Linked DNA regions of Homo sapiens: region 2 is linked to region 1. A link means that fine-mapping ties the variant in region 1 to the plasma level of a protein whose gene starts in the linked region. Region 1 holds a variant in brackets. A gene starts in the other region. All regions are shown on their forward strands.

Region 1 (2,906 bases):
GTCCTGTGCGCTTAACTCAGGAAGGAGTTAAGGGTAGCGAGCTAGGGAGACTGCAGCCAACCTGAGAGGAGGGTGAAGCTTTAAGATAAAAGAAAGTTGAGTTCCTGAAGCCTAAACCAGAAAAGGTTAGGCAGCACTGGCCTAGCCCTAAGGAAGAGCATTGGTGGAATAAATCAGCAAGCTGTATTTGGTTTATCAACTAAGAAAGCAAGTCCTTTCATCTCAGGTCCAGCACTTAAACTGTCATACCCAAACCATCTACTACAGCATTTACTACTGAAGGAGCTCCAATAGAACACAAGAGAATGTTTTCTTGGGTAGTGAGAGGAGGTAGGAGGTGCATTCTGAAATATTACCCAAATAAAAGTTTCTGGAAGACACCCTTTCCCTTCAATTTCTAGTTGACCTTGGTAAAAACTGTCGCGAACTATGAATAGAAACATGCACGGAGGAAGTAAGTGCACAATAAACATTTCATTTCAACACAGATGAAGCACCTAGTCATGCCACATTTATGGAGCGCCTACTGTGTGCTAAGTAGGCAAAGTGCTATATTGACCCCAGGGATACGCAGAAAAAAACACGGCGGGGCCTCAAAGAGCTGTCAAACACTTAACAGCCTGTGATTAGCCCTTCAGGAGGGGTCTCTAGCTTGGTCTGGAAAGTTAAACTTGAGATTCCTAGAATCTTGCAAAACTGATAGAAGCTCCCAGATCAAGTAGATAGCGAGACAGACTCTCCGGCCAAGTGCGCAGTGGCAGGCGCGGAAGTGCGAGCCGGCAGGACCGCCAGGCACCAGCCGCGCGGGCGTGGGCAGCACAGCCGCAGTTCCCTTCCACTGCAGGTCCCGAAGCCGCTGATATTCCAAACGAGGAAGTGTAAGGAAAGCACTATCCTCGGTCTAGCCGCAGGCGGCATCACCATCAGTCAGCCTCTATCCTAAAAGCTCTGGCCATTCAGCGGGAATCATCGCCTTCACTTCCTGCAGTAGGGTGGCTAAGTTTAGCAAACAAGAATGCAGGACGCCCGGTCAAATTAGAATTGTAACCAAACACCAGAAAACTGTTCCGTTTTTCCTATGTCCACTGCAGTATTTGGGACACACTTGGACTAAGAATCATTCGCTCTTTCAGAGAAATTCCAATTGATTGCGGCGTCTTGTATTTTATGTAGCAATTCACAGAGGGATGGCCTAAGTGAACATGAGTGAAGTATTTTCAACGCGAGAGTCACAGGCTCCTGAAGTCAGCACAGCCGCGGAGGGCACCCTTCCCTGCCCATCCCTCGAGCGCCTCTGCGTGTTATGACTCAGAGCCCACGCGCTAGTACGCCTCGCCCACCCGGCGCCGGGGCAAAGGGGCACCTCCGCCCACCGCTTTCTCCAGACCCCCGCAAGGCCTGCGCACCACGCCGCGGCACTCCTGCCCGCTGACCCCGTACCCAGAGGCCGCAGCTGCCGCAGCTCCCGCAGCTCCCGCCGCCCTGTCAAGCCAGCCTGCCGAGCCGCTCCTGCTCCAAACCAGCCGCGTCCCCGCCAGCGCCGCGCGGCGCCAAATC[A/G]TGGTCAGAGCCCGGATCTGCAGCGAGCTCTACTGCCGGACACCGCGGATCCCGGGAGCCCGCCTCCTCCGGCCCGGCCCCCGCCTTGCCCCGCCCCGTCCCGCCCCTCCGGACTGCCCGCGCCGCCGCCGGTCACCTCCTCGCAGCTGAGCGCGTCCTCCCAGGGCTGCCCGAGCGCTGGATTCCAGCGAGTGCCACCCACGTGTAAACATCCTTTAGAGGGGAGAAGCGGCTCACTTGCTTATCTCGAGGGTTCATCCGAGCCCCGCCTCTGGATTCTTTTAGGTTTAGGGACGCTCATAAAGGCTCCCAGGCACTTGGAAGCAGTGCATGAGGATGGTGGCAGACATGCTGGGGAAACGGAGGAGAAAAAACATGACCATCCAAAACAGAATCAAAGTGGTGCCTCAGATGTTTCCAACTACCTGTTACACAAGTTTTTGTGTGGATGAAATAAGAGCCTAAATATATCCTCTTATAATTAGGCAATTGGTCGAGACCCAATGTAAATTATGGGGATATTGGGGTTTACATCCATAATTAAAAGAAAAAATCCGGTGTTGAAGGTTTACTCCAAAGAAGACAAAGATTATTTCCCACCACCTGCCAAAAAAAAAAAATTAGGAAACAAAACAAAAGAAATTAGCACAGAGATGTTTCACCATGGCTTTGGAAATGGGCGATTGCTGTTGACAGGATTATTTAAGCCACTCAGTGGTGGTAATAATAGCCTTTGTGCGTCACTATTTAAGGTTGGGGGTAAGCCTTTATTTACTGAGGACACTGAAATTCATCTTAAAGTCAAAGGTCAAATGGTACATCTAAAATTCTAAACAATTATTACAACAATCCAGAGCTTTTTTGATTCTTCATGTTCAACTAAGTGTAAAATTCATGTTACCAAAGTACAAAATAAGAACTTGTATTTCTGACAGTTCTTTTCCAACATTCAAATGGGCTATGTTTGATTACTTAATAAAAGGATGGAAGTTAGTTGCAAAAATAAATACCCCCAAAGGGTAGGAATTCATTCTTTTTAAAGACAAATTTGACTTTGAAAATTAAGGCATGTGGCCAGGCGCGATGGCCTGTCCTGTAATGTGGCCATTACAGGACTGCCCGCTGACCCCGTACCCAGAGGCCGCAGCTGCCGCAGCTCCCGCAGTGGCCAGTCCTGTAATCCCAGCACTTTAGGAAGCCGAGGCGGGCGGGTCACCTGAGGTTGGGGGTTCAAGACCAGCCCCTCCAATATTGGTGAAACGCCGTCTCTACTAAAAATACAAAATTAGCCGGGCGTGGTGGCGCATGCCCGTAATCCCAGCTACTCGGGAGGCTGAGGCAGGAGAATC
Region 2 (2,834 bases), not on the chromosome of region 1:
ATTCAAACCACATACTTTTTAAAAAACAAGTACCGGTCAGGTGTGGTGGCTCACGCCTATAATCGCAGCATTTTGGGAGACCAAGGCAGGTGGATCACTTGAGGCCAGAAGTTAGAGACCAACCTGGCCAACATGGCGAGACCCTGTTTATACTAAAAATACAAAAATTAGCTGGGCATGGTGGCGCATGCCTGTAAGCCCAGCTACTCGGGTGGCTGAGGCATGAGAATAGCTTGAACCTGGGAGGCGGAGGTTGCAGTGAGCTGAGATTGTGCCATTGCACTCCAGGCTGGGAGACAGAGTGAGACTCTGCCTCAAAAATAAATAAAAACCAGAAGTACCATAATGAATAAATCAAGTGTAAGACCTGAGGGAGACTGGAAAAGGAGTTGTGAGGGAACCGTTAAAATTAAGTGAAATTTGAAAAATAATCATCACTTTGTGTTAGTGAAAGACTTAGGTTCAAATCTGGGTTCCAGGACTTACTGGCTATGTGACTAACTGTAAATGGGATGAAGACAGCAACTACCTCGGGGAATTGCTGTGAGGATGTGTTGGGTTAACTTATTGGAAGTGCTTTGCCCGGTGCTGTTCTTAACAATTCAAAGCAGTTCCACATCCATTGGGCCAGAATAAACATTTCCTGGCTGCAGTTGCGGGGACTGGTCAAGAGAGAGAAACAGGCTAACGAAGGGTTTATAACAACAAAAAAATGTGACCCTCCAGTCTGAATTCTGAAGTATAATCCCGCCCAGACCCCAGCAGTAATAGTGGAAAAGTGCACCACCTGCGAAAGAACCAAGGAAACCTGATGCTAGTGAACTCGGATTAATCACTTCCTATTTCTGGGTGTTAGTTTTTTATGTATAAAATATGAGTAACTATGCCCACCTTGCGAGTTTAGGGTGAACACCAAATGAACCAAAGGATGTGACTGTGCTTCTTGAAAAGCACTGCCCCAATATTTGTCATTCGGAGAGACACCCAAGTGGCCTCGGTGGTGATGGTAGGGGAGCGAGCTCCTGCCACTGGCCTCACTGCGACTTTTCTCCACCCTTCCAGTCCAGTCCCAATCCCCGTAAAATACGATGAGTGTGGTGGGACACAGCGCCGAGAATGCAGGGCCTGGGAACAGAGGCGGGAGGGCTCACCTGAACACACTGCTGGTAGCGCTTGAAGAGGTCGGTGCACGGGTCCCCGGAGCTGTCCCCCTTGAGAAATTTCTCGGCGAACCAGCGATTGAAGCACTGGTCGTACTCGCGCTTCATGTCCGTGCATGCCTCCCCCACACTGTTCATGGCGACAGTGGTGGCGGCGGCGACGACGGCGCACTCTGATGTCATCACTCTCAGGCGCGTCGCTCGGCGTTACGCGCGGGCGCACTGCGGGGGCCAAGGAAGGAAGAAATGTGGTCGCGGTTGGTGTGGCTGGGCCTTCGGGCCCCTCTGGGCGGGCGCCAGGGCTTCACCTCCAAGGCGGATCCTCAGGTAAAGGCCAGGGCCATCTAGGCGGGTGGCGGAGCAAGCCGGGAGGCACTTCGGAGCGCCGGTGACCCACACTCCCCGCCTCATCCCTCCTCCAGGGCAGTGGCCGGATCACGGCTGCGGTGATCGAGCACCTGGAGCGTCTAGCGCTTGTGGACTTCGGCAGCCGCGAGGCAGTGGCGCGACTGGAGAAAGCTATCGCCTTCGCCGACCGGCTACGCGCCGTGGACACAGACGGGGTGGAGCCCATGGAATCGGTCCTGGAGGACAGGTAAACTCGCGGCTGCAGCCCCGAAGCCTTGACCGTGGCCCGTTCGCAGCCGTTTAATGTGACGATTAGCGAACAGTTTTCCAGGGGGTTAAAGAGTGTTAGCAAGATTCAGGAACTTGCCCACAGTCACCTCGCGAGTCAGTGGCTTCACTCTTCCCCTTGTTCATTACTGATGCTCTCGCTAGTGTAAGTGGAAACAAAACCCGAACTGCTAATCACTGCCTTTGTTTTTTTTTTTGTTTGTTTGTTTTGTTTTTTTTTTTTTGAGACGGAGTCTCGCTGTGTTGCCTAGGCTGGAGTGCAGTGGCTCGATCTCGGCTCACTGCAACCTCCGCCTCCCGTGTTCAAGCAATTCTCTGCCTCAGCCTCCCGAGTAGCTGGGATTACAGGCGACTGCCACCAGGCCCGGCTTATTTTTTTTGTATTTTTAGTAGAGACGTGGTTTCACCATCTTGGCCAGGTTGGTCTTGAACTCCTGACCGTGATCCACCCGCCTCGGCCTCCCAAAGTGCTGGGATTACAGGTGTGAGCCACCGCGCCTGGCCTAATCATCGCCTTTAAGGCCCTACTCCATAGAGTCCCTACCTACTCACTCCAACGTACTCTTCTCAGTACTCTCCTTGGCTACCTTGACTGCTTCTCCAGCAAGACAAGTTCTTTTCCTCTCTAGATCTCTGCACTGGCCCTTCGTTTTTTTCCTTCCTCTCAGTATTTGCATGGCTGCCTCCCTCTTGGCACAGGTCTCAGCTTATCTTCTCAGAAAGGGCTCTCCTAACCACTCCAAATCCCTTCTCCCCTTCTAGTTAGTAACTCATCCTATTGGGTTTTTTCCCTAACATTTTAATGGACTTTTGTTCATTTGTTATATCTCTTTTATTAAAATGTGAGCTCATTATGTAGTTACTGTTTTATTCCTGCCTTGAATTTTTATTTTATTTGTTTTTGAGATGGAGTCTCACTCTATCACCCAGGTTAGAGTGCAGTGGCATGATCTCAGCTCATTGTAATGTCCACCTCCCAGACTCAAGAGAGCCTCCCATCTCAGCCTCCCAAGTACAGGACCACAGGCGCGTGCCACT

Alleles and levels. Alleles are on the strand shown, and positions count from the first base shown. The strength of an association depends on the size of the effect and on how common the allele is.
In carriers of allele G in region 1, the plasma level of the protein whose gene starts at base 1,310 in region 2 tends to be lower than with A alone (moderate association).

Evidence for each region. PIP is the posterior inclusion probability: the model's chance that the variant is causal. Protein levels are from antibody-based Olink assays in UK Biobank. Linkage for the fine-mapping came from a reference panel and not from the study's own genotypes, which makes the PIPs less certain.
Region 2: it holds the start of TRIAP1, and the variant in region 1 is fine-mapped to the plasma level of the TRIAP1 protein (UK Biobank, PIP above 0.99).

The regions. Positions count from the first base shown.
Region 1 is chr1:193,103,824-193,106,729 of GRCh38, forward strand. It overlaps GLRX2 (glutaredoxin 2), which reads right to left and starts at 1,591. Exons shown (of 4, transcript NM_197962.3): 1 at 1,441-1,591. The coding sequence starts at 1,559. RefSeq lists silencers at 1,380-1,479, 1,456-1,750, 1,530-1,769. The variant A/G (reference allele first, on the strand shown) is at 1,558.
Region 2 is chr12:120,445,075-120,447,908 of GRCh38, forward strand. It overlaps TRIAP1 (TP53 regulated inhibitor of apoptosis 1), which reads right to left and starts at 1,310. Exons shown (of 2, transcript NM_016399.3): 1 at 1,152-1,310. The coding sequence starts at 1,298. GATC (glutamyl-tRNA amidotransferase subunit C) reads left to right here and starts at 1,370. Exons shown (of 4, transcript NM_176818.3): 1 at 1,370-1,487; 2 at 1,583-1,755. The coding sequence starts at 1,407. RefSeq lists enhancers at 492-1,339, 651-1,850, 1,065-1,614, 1,212-1,506, 1,340-2,185.